Linked DNA regions of Homo sapiens: region 1 is linked to region 2. Evidence: fine-mapped expression QTL. A gene starts in region 2. The other region holds a variant in brackets. All regions are shown on one strand. Distances are from middle to middle. Region 1 has its middle 20 kb from the start of LINC01187. Region 2 holds the start of FOXI1 (forkhead box I1).

What was found. PIP is the estimated chance that this variant, and not a neighbour inherited with it, causes the effect. A credible set is the group of variants that fine-mapping cannot tell apart.
Region 1: its variant is the best candidate, but not a certain one, in a credible set for the expression of FOXI1 in whole blood (TOPMed, PIP 0.58).

Annotation. Positions count from the first base shown.
Region 1 is chr5:170,176,498-170,181,871 of GRCh38, reverse strand. No RefSeq gene overlaps it. Among named protein-coding and RNA genes, the nearest start is that of LINC01187, 20 kb to the left of the region's middle. The variant G/A (reference allele first, on the strand shown) is at 2,896.
Region 2 is chr5:170,102,681-170,108,054 of GRCh38, reverse strand. FOXI1 (forkhead box I1) reads right to left here and starts at 2,158. Exons shown (of 2, transcript NM_012188.5): 1 at 1,524-2,158; 2 at 1-6. The coding sequence starts at 2,097.

The DNA.
Region 1 (5,374 bases), 74 kb before region 2:
TCAGTAGATGTGTGGTCCTCCACCCTCCTGACAAACCTCCAGGCTCCCTAGAATGTTGTTGCATTGTAGGCAACAAGTCTCTGACTCCTCAAATAAGGGTACAAATGGTACTGACATTTTCACTTGAAATGGCACTTTTGGGACTCTAACCAGAAAAAAATGAAAGCTTGTAAGAATGCATGTACATCGATGATGATAATTGCTGCATTGATTGTATTTGTCAAGAGGGAACTGGAAAATCTCCCCAAGACTAATATGCCTCAATAAGGGAGAGACTGAATAAGCTGAATACACTATGGCACTCTACTGTATTGGACTAAGCAGTTATGAAAAATAATGAGGTTTTTAAAATTGATCTGGAGAGATGGGCATGATGCATTCAGTGAAAAAGTATACAAATAAATATATATTTAGTGTGATTTTTTTGGAAAAAGCAAACCACCTTTTGTCCCCTTCTCTCCTATGTGTGGACATACATGTTTCCATGACCCTAAAGAGAAGTACGGAGTGATTCACACCAAGTGTCAACCTTGCATCTCTGAGTGGGCACAAAAGGAAGAGATGAATGGGAGAAAGGAGGTTTAAGAGTCTATTGAGACCGGGCGCGGTGGCTCACACCTGTAATCCTAGCACTTTGGGAGGCTGAGGCGGGCAGATCACGAGGTCAGGAGATCAAGACCATCCTGGCTAACACAGTGAAACCCCGTATCTACTAAAAACACAAAAAATTAGCCGGGCGTGGTGGCGGGCGCCTGTAGTCCCAGCTACTTGGGAGGCTGAAGTAGGAGAATGGCATGAACCCGGGAGGCGGAGCTTGCGGTGAGCCAAGATTGTGCCACCGCACTCCAGGCTGGGCAACAGAGCGAGACTCTGTCTCAAAAAGAAAAAAAAAAGGGTCTATTGAATGTATTTTTTGTCTCTGAATTGTTCACTTTTTTCTAAACACATACATCATTTTTTTTTGTAATGAAATGAAGTTGTTAGAAGGCCACTTCACAAACAAGTCCTCAGTGAATGAAATGAGTAAATGAATGAAATCTGATAATCCTACCATTTGCAATTCACTCTTTTGAGACAGGAGGTGTTTTCCTGTTCCAGATTCTCTACCAATATGCAAATACCCCTGAGTGGAGCTGATAAAGCCGAAATTGTCACTGATCACTAATCTGGGGCTTGTCAGCCTCAGGCCGAGATCAAAATAAGAGTGTGTGAGTGTGTGTGTGTGTGTGTGTGTGTGTGTGTGTGTGTATTTGCGGGGAGGAGGAGAGAAAAGTATCAAGGTAGACATCTCTGTGTGCCTGGCAACATGCTGGGTGTCTTCACACACACCTGTGCACTGAATACAAAAACAGTCCTGCAGGGATCCGATTCACTTCTTTTTATGAACAAGGGCACTAGAGATTAAAGGGTTTATGAACATCTTGCCTAAGGTTCCATAGCCAAAAGCTGAGCTGGATGCGAATATAGGAATCTTGGAGCATCAAGACAGAGTAGAAAGGTTTCAAAGTCCCCTGATATGAGCAGACTTCTGTTTAGTAAAACACTCATGATCATCATAAACGTAGTGATGACAGCTCATATCCATTGAGTCTTAGCTTTGTTCCTTGCTGACCCTCTGCTGAGTACTTCAAATGATTTATTTTAATTAATCCTTACAAGGACCCAAGGATGGGAACCATTATTATTCCCATTTTATAAATGAGGAAATTGAGGCACAAGAAGGTAAGTAATTTGAGGAAAGAAACAAACTCAGAAAGTGAAGAGAAGGATTTTGAACGCACACAGTCTTAACTGTACCACCTGCCCTTTCAACCCCCAGGAGGACAGAGCTGTTCATTACAACAGCCCTGACCCTGGAACTGAGGCCTTGGAACTCTGGTCCAGGGCTCTTTGCACTACACCAGACTGATGTCAGTCCCCAGGTCTTGCTGAGAAACAACAGATCCATGAAGAGGGAGGCTGAGAGACTCACTCTGTGTCCTCGAGTTTGCCCTGACCGACTTTATGGAGATTCCAGGAGTGACTCTGGTCTTGTCTGGGTCATCACAGGGCATTTTGGTTTCACATTCTCCTGGGCTTACTGCTGCTCATTCCTCGTAAATCCAGCCACTGTGCAGTTCAGGCCTGACGCCGCGTGCCTCCAGGGTGGCTGGACAACCTCTTTCAGGGCTTTGTTAAGAAGGCCATCCTCAATACAAAAAATTAGCTGGTCATGGTGGCAGGCGCCTGTGGTCCCAGCTACTCAGGAGGCTGAGGCAGAAGAATGGCGTGAACCCGGGTGGCGGAGCTGGCAGTGAGATGAGATCACGCCACTGCACTCTAGCCTGGGCGACAGAGTGAGACTCGGTCCAAAAAAAAAAAAAAAAAAAAAAAGAAGGCCGTCTCATCTATCTAAGACAGCGTGTGCCAGAATCCAGCCATCTCCTTCCCAACAGAATGATTGTTGTCATTTCTGTCTATCACCTGAAACATTATTTATTTACTATTTTAATTTAAACCGAAAAAACCCTCAAACTTTATTTCTAAGAGGAAATCTCTATCACTGGTTATAAATGGACAACCAGCATGGCCATAAATAGAAGGCTACTGTAAAATGAAGATGATAAAAACAGAACAAAGCCACTCAATTATAGCTAGGCATTGCGGCTTGCAGAAGTGCTATGACTTAGCAGGCCTGCCCTCTGCTTGTTAAAATGAGAGAGCAAGAGTTGCAGAGGCATTGAGACATCCTAGCAGCTCTCAAGACTTTTCAGCTTGATACTACCTGAAGGCCTGAGAAAGAACTAGAGACACCTCCCTCTGCCTGGGGCTGGTGGTTCTGACCTAGCCGCAATGGGAAGCACCGCCTTGGGACTTCTTACTTCCTGATCCTCGGGTGTTATCTACGCAGCTCTC[G/A]CAACCTCTTGAAGGCCTTCTATGGTCATTGGCTTCTTGGGAAATGCTCTTGGCCAGAGGGCTTGTCTTGCCCAGTGATGGCCGGCTCAGCCGCCCTGTGTCTCAGACCGGCCCAGGCCCTCAGCCAGCTCCTGGGGCAACTTTGAGAGCTTTCCAAAGGAAGGGTCCATAAGGGCCACTCACGGTGGCTCATGCCTGTAATCCCAGCACTTTGGGGGGCTGAGGTGGGCGGATCACCTGAGGCCAGGAGTTCGAGACCAGCCTGGCCAACATGGTAAAACCCCATCTCTACTAAAAATACCAAAAAAAAAAAAAACAAAAAAAAAAAAACATCAGCCAGGTGTGGTGGTGGAAGCCTCTATAATCCCAGCTACTTTGGAGGCTGAGGCGGGAGCATCGCTTGAACCTGGGAGGTGGAGGCTGCAGTGAGTCAAGATTGTGCCATTGCACTCCAGCCTTGGCAACAAGAGCAGAACTGCAAAAAAAAAAGATGTGGGGGGTCTATAAGGAGGTGGCATTACCACTAATAATAGTATTGCACCTAAGAAGGGAGTGGAATTAGAGACAAACTCTTTATCTTTTCTGTCACTTGATTTTTTTATAATGACAAAATATTTATATATTGCTTAATAATAAAGACTTTTCTAAGAAAGACAGCCCGACACTCTTTCTTGTCTTGCAAGGGTTAAGGTGTCCTCTCTGGGCATTTGGGAGACAGTTCAGGTGAGCAGGCAGGAGCAGTGGCTGCTCTCCATGATGTGGCACAGTGGGTCTCATGACAGCAGTGCCATCCTCACGGGGCAGGAAACAGGTGTGGGTTCCAGTTTTTTCAGTGCTAAGGAGACAGTGTGACTTATCCTGGAATTTGAATCCAGGCTGGGAACTTGCCAATGGGTGACCTTTGGCAAATTGCTCGACCCCTCTGAGTTTTCGTGGGGATTATACAACCTACCTTGAGGAGTTGCTGTGTACATACATGATGCCCTAACCCACAATGCGTGTTTTGGTGTCTTGGCAGTCAGTACTGTGCCAGGTTGGGCAAATCACTTTTCCTTCCTGGTCCTCAGTCTTCTCATTAACGAGCTGAGGATGTGATTAGATCTGTGGTCCACAACTAGGGCCACTGGTCAAACCCAATTGCCAGACTTGTTTTTTATAGGCCACGGGGTGTTTTCTGGTTAGCTGCCAACATTTACAAATCAGGAGATTGTACATAGGAATCTAGGTTTTGTGTGTCTCCAGAGAAATCTACAAATCTGGCAGTGTTAGGCCCACATTATGACATTCACTGGGAACTGGCTAAGACAAGACTCACCTACTTGAGCTGTTTAGCTATTTAAGTTATTGGGTGTTCAATATTCACAGCAGCTGCAATTAGGAATGAGTTTAGATAGCTGGCCCCAGGTCATACAAATGTGAACAGGAGAGCCGGGACTTGAACCCACGCATTCTGGCTTTGTGTGTATTTATCTCCCCATGCTGCCTCCTGGTCAGGAAGCCAAGAACTGTACCAGGCACTGCAGAGACAGAGGTGGAGGCAGCCTGAGGCTCTCGGGGCTTTCTGCAGTCCTTTCTGTGCTGGGGAGGTGAGGGTTAACCTTACCCTGCTATCTCACTCAGGCCAGAGGCTGCCAGGATGAACTGTGCAAGAACTTGCTGGAGGTGGATGAAGCAAAGCCTCCTTTTCTACTGACAACTGGTGTTCACCCTGATAGCAACCGCTGGCCCTCAGCGGCCCCCCAGGGTGTGCGGGAACCCTGCACTGGCTCTGTTTTGCTTTGGCAGTGGAGCACACCTGCCTCCCATTGCTCCAGCCCTCCTGTTTACCCTGCAAACAGCCAAGTGCTCCACACCATCATTTAGAGGCCAGGGGGCGGCTGCCATGGGGCACCAGGCAGTCCAGTCCTGTTTGAGCTGTCCTGGGACCTGAGGGCTGCACGCGCCCAGAGCCCATTTGCCTAGGATTTAATGGGCCCCCACACCCCTGCTAGCTGCCGGCAGGAGGGAGGTAAAAGGGGAGGGTGCTGCTGGGCTCTGGGTGACTTGGCTCCTACTGAGCCCCATGACCTTGAGCCTCTGGGTCTCAATGCCTCAGTTTCCCCAATATAATCTGCCCTTCCAGGGCTCCAGAGAGCAGCAAGCTCCTGGACTCGGAAGATTCTGGTGCAGCATCTCTCGGGAGCATGGCCGTAGGACCCTGACAATTAATAACATTCATTGTTGTTAGCAGAGCTCAACAAGAGGCATCGGACTAAGGCTTTCAAAACTTGTCATTGAAGTATAACATACTTTCAGAAAAGTGTGCATATCATAATTGTGCAGCTCAATGAATGTTCACACCCCAAGCACGCCTGTGAAATTAGCACCCAGATCAAAAAGCAGAATACCGCCAGCACTCCAGAAAAAGCCCTCATACTCACCCTCCAGCCACAGCCACCATTTGACTGGCATCGTCTCTTTAGTGCTCACCACAATTCCG
Region 2 (5,374 bases):
CTTTGCCTGATACAAAAGTGAAAGGGGGTAAATAGAGAGGTGGACAAAATGCTTTGCTTCTGTTCCTCCTTATTGTCATAAACTAAAAGCCAAGGTGACAGATGCAGGAAGACAGAGACCGACAGGCAGGGACTGAGAAATGGAGGAATTCCATCAACTGATGAACCACACCACCTCCATCTTTAATTAAGCAGCCCATGACAGGGCCCTTTGGGACTGCAGCCGAGAGGCATGAGCATTAAGGAGTTTGCAATGTAGGTCTCTTTAAGAAGGATGAAGAACTGGGAGCAGGGATGCTGAGGGATTTGGGGGTTGGGGGTTGGAGGGCTTTCAATGCTGAAGGAAAAGAAGACTCAGGAAAACTCTGGGACTCCCTAATAGCCGTAGGCTTGGAGTCTGAAGACAGACTTGAGTCCTGGCTTTGCTCCTCACTGACTGAGGGGCTTTGGAAGAACCTGTTTTCTAGTCTGAAAAGTGGGCCCATTGCCCCTGTCTTCCTCAGGCCCACTGAGAAAGGATCCACACCGGATATGGAAAGGAGCGTTGCAGCTGGGAGGTACCTTCCCGAGGGAAGGCCTGAACTCTTCCTGCTACCGTCTCTCAGCCTGAGGGTGATGGCAGTCCTTGGACAGGACACTTGCCCTCTTCTGGGGACAAACAGGCCTGGTGTTTGCCACCCTCAAATGGGGCAGAGTTGGGGTTCCTTTGAGCTATACCTTGGCTTCCTGCGGTGGAACAAAAGTGGACTTTAATTCTGGGAAATGGATGCATGAGTATTTAATACATGCCTCTCTGCAGGTCTCTGAGTTTTAGAAATGCATCGTTGAAAAGGAAAAGCTCACAATTTCTGATGTTAGAGAAAACTGAGTTCAAATTCAAGCTCCATCACTATCACTTCATTCTGTGTCACCTCTGAGTGTTATTTTCCTAATCTGTAGAATGGGTTTCATAAGAGCTACCCTGCAGGGGTGTCTTCGGGTTAAAGGAGGTTACCTAAGTAGAAACAAGGCAGGCAGCAAAATGGGCCATTAGTGGCTGTTTAACCCAGGTCAGATCCTCTTCCTGGCAGTCTTGGGATGCCCTTGGGCTTTGGTTGGTCCAGTCATTCATTCACCAAAGACTTTCTATGTGCTGGGTGCTGGAGATGCAGATGAATCGTAATTACTGCAGGCGATTAAGCGCTTGATAACACCTAAAACCTTGTGTACATTATCTCATCACCTCCACTGCAGCCTGCAAAGCAGATGCTGTCACTATCCCTGGTTTTCCGATGAGGGAACTGAGGCTCTGAGGTCTAACCTGCCAGAGGTCACTGACTGGGCAGGAGCACAGCCAGGGCTGAAACCCAAATCTTCCCCCAGGCCCATGCTCTCCTTCACTGCTGAGCTCCCCTCTGTCCTGCCTGGTAGCATCCCCCAGTCTTGGGGGGCACAGCCCTAGTCAGAACTTTCTAGAATGGGGTCTTGGGGAGGAAGGAAGTGAGTCTTCCTTGGGGACACCCCCCACACTCAAAGCCTCCTTACCCGGGTCGTCCTCGTCGCGGGGCACCTTCTTGAAGCAGTCGTTGAGCGACAGGTTGTGGCGGATGGAGTTCTGCCAGCCGGCCTTGCTCTTGTTGTAGAAGGGGAAGTTGTCGGCCACGTACTGGTAGATCTGGCTGAGAGTGAGGCGCTTGTCGGGTGCCCCGTGGATGGCCATGGCGATGAGAGCCGAGTAGGAATAGGGTGGCCGCACCAGCTTCATCAGCTCCTCCTGCGAGGGGATGGGCAGCCAGCCCAGGTCGCTCCCCCCAAGCCCCGACACGCTGGGCAGCAGCGGCCTCTGCACTCCATAGGCCTGGGGCAGGAAGGGGCTGGCGTTGGGGCCGGGCAGGTAGGGTGGCGGGGTCATGGTGGGCCCGTTGAACCAGAGGTAGGGGTTGGGGGTGGCCCCATACTCGCCGCCCCCCTCGAAGGAGGGCCGCTGAGGGCTGGGCACGCCCTGTGGGTGGAAGAAGTTCTCATAGTAGAGGTTCATCTCGGGGGGCTCCTGGCCGATGCTGGGGAACTGGGGGCTGCAGCGAGGTGGGGAGGGCGCCGGCAGGTCGAAGGAGCTCATGCTGGGGCTGGGCTGGCCGGAGCCACCTGCCTGGCACCTGCACCCCGGAGCTGCCCCTGACAGGTGCTCAGCAGGCCCGGCCTCCCACTTATACCCCTAGGGCTTGGCCGGGCGGCCCCACCCAGGGGCGGCCACCTGCCTGTGGATCCCAGCCCAGGGCCCGCCCTCCCTCAGCCTCCAGCCCACGGGGAGGGGACTTTCCCGCTGGCGCCTCAGGTCCCCACTAATGACATGCTAGACGGCTTACCAGAGCTGACACGCAGCGCAGCGAGAACGCCCCTCTATCCTCTCTCCCGGCTTTCTCTCCTGTCTTTTCTCACCATCCTCATGATTCCCTTCTTCTTTTTCTCCTTTATTCTGTCTTACTTCTCTCATTTTTTTTTCTGTCCTTCCCTTTCGTCACATTTTTCTACCCACCTCGGTTTCCTTCTCTCTCTCCCTCCTCTCCTCTCTGCATCTCATTCTCTGTTTCTTTCCTTCTTATTTTCTTTCCTCCCTTCTGCTCTGAACTGTGTTTCTTTTCTATGAACTGATCTGGCCACATCACAGCTGCTCATTCCCGTTCTCTCTCTCTCTCTCTCTCTCTCCCCCTCCCTCTCTCCCTCTCTCCCTCTGTCTCTAGGCTTCCAGTTCTTCTTTCCACTTCCATCTCTCGCTTCCATTCTCATTGTCTTCCCGGCTTCTCCCCTTTCTCCTTCTCTTTCACTCTGTCCCTTTCTCTCCACCTCTCATTTTCTCTGCGCCTCTCTTCCCATCCCCTCATTCTCCCTCCTCTTCCCCCCAATGTCCCCTCATTCTCTAACCAACTGCCCCAGCCGGGACTGGGTGGGACACTTTATCAGAAACCCTGTTTCTTGGTCTTTTGAGGTGAGGAGGCACTTTCTGGAGTTGCCAGGAGAGAACCGGCCCTGGAGACTCAGAAGAGGGCGCAGAGGGGCCTGGGCTGGCTTCTGGTGGGGTTCAAGGGGGCAACCAGTCATAGGCACCGCAGCCTCCCCCAACACACACATACACGCACACACGCGTACGCGCACACGCACACACGCGCACACGCACACGCGCACGCCCACACACGCGCACACGCCCACGCACGCACGCGCACACACGCACGCACACACACACGCATATGCATACATGCTGCAGACGGGCAGAGAACCTGAGAATTTGCCTGGAGAGCAGCAAGGCTCTTAAAAATAATAGCAAAAGGGGAAAATGGGGAATCAGTCTTCAGGGAAAAGTGAGAGAACTTGAACAATTCAAGTTTCTTTCCAGCTGCAGGGCAAGCAGGCTCCCAGCTCCTCTCTGATCCAAAGACCTTTCATGTTTCAGCTCGCAGAGGCCCCTGGCATGGAGGCAGCCAGGGCACGAGGAGAGCGCCCGACTCACCATGCCCCAGGCGTCCTCTCTCTCTCTCCCTCAGGCTCCAGAAGCAGGAGCTGCAGCCCCTGCTGGCTTCTCCCTGTGGCTCAGCCAGCTCCTCTCCTATCTGGGCTCCATCCTCCATCTTGTCCCAGCCTCCCCTGGTGCCCCAGGTCAGGCCCTCAGCTTGGGCCATGGGTGGTGGTCTCCCTACTCAGAGGGTAGGCGCTGGCCCCTGACCAGGTTCTGGTAGCAGCTGAGACTTCTCTCTGTGATGAAGCAGATGGGAGAAAAGTTGGGGTCAGCCCCTCTGGTCACCACCTCGCTCCCGCTTGCCTCCTTCTTCTTCCCATCCAGCTTCCTCCCACTTCCTGCATGCCCTACTTTCTTTGAGGCAAGAGAAAGAGGTCACTGACTGTCCCAACTGGAGAGGATGCTCCCCAAAGAATTCTTCCCCTCTCTGCTCCTCTTTCATGGTTATGTGGGGACACATGTGGCAAACATGAATGAGACTGAATAAACTTCATTTTCAGCATATTGGTGCCCAGAGGATGAGTTCCAGGTAACTGGGTAGGAGTGGTCATGTTAGGCCCAGAGGAACCTGTCCCCACCATAAAACAGTGATGAAATGTGACTCTCTGAAAGGCTCTGGCTGTCCAGATGAGGCTTAGAGTAAGGCACACTTTGCAGAGCCAAGCCAGAGGCAGAATTTTTGTTTGGTACAGTTTCTCTATGAGGAGGCCTGGCTTGCTGAAGGTGGAGCCCTGACTTTTCAAAGAGCAGTCACATTGGAGTCCCCTAGTACAGACTCAAAGCCTTACAATTAACCTAGCAATTTCACTTCTCAAAGCTTATCTTACAAAATTCAACAGAGCAAAGAATTAGCCACAGGGATGCCCACCACAGCATTGTTTATAGCGGTGAAAAATTGTAACTAATCTAAATGCCCAACAGTAGGGGATTGGCTAAATAGTGTATCATCCAAATGATGTAATATTATGCAACTATGAAAAATAGATTCTGGAAAAATAACTAATGATATGAAAAGATGTTTATGTTCTCATGATATTATTTGGAGAAACAGGTTGCAAAATGCCATGAGATTTTTTTTTAGTACAAATATGTATTTATAATTGTATATGAAATCTAGAAACATAAATATCAAACTGCCAATTATTATTTCTGGATGAAGAATTGGATGCAATTTTTGTTGTTGTTTTTCCGTAGTTTCTGATTTAAATGATTAGAGAAAGGCAAGCACACAGGTGACTTGCTTTTGGGGTTAAATTTGAAAGGCTAAAAACAGATAATATAGCAGAGACGTAGCAAACACAGGCTCTGAGATCAGGAGGACCTGGCTGCAAATCCCAACCTTGGTATTGCAAATCCCAACCTTGGGATCACTGCAGGCCCTGACAAGTGATCTAGCTTTTCTCAGCCTCAGTGTTTTCTGGTGAAAAAGGGAACGATGCCAGTACTTAACTCACGAAGTTGCAGTGAGCATTCAGTGAGGTAGTCAGTGTAATCAATGTCAATCATTTCACATGGCACATACAGGCTCACTCAATAAATATTAGTTATTATAGATTATAGTCAGTATACATTTGCTGTGTACAATCAAGCACACCTATGTTTGCTACACTGAGAGTTAATCGCATGCAGCATGCAGCAGGGATGTGACAGGGATTATGATGCAAAAACAGAGGGAGAAATATTCAGCGTAGACACCGATTCTATAACCAGACTCTACATTTACAGATGACAATCAGAGAGGGCCCAGAGTCACACAAGTTCATGGCTGGGTCAGGACCCACTCTGCCCCACTTTGGCGTCTCCTGCTTTAGCGGCATTTTCTGAGGAATGCTGAACTGGGTCTCCCTAGCTGCATGTGGACCCTAGTTCCTTTCCCCCAGTAGAT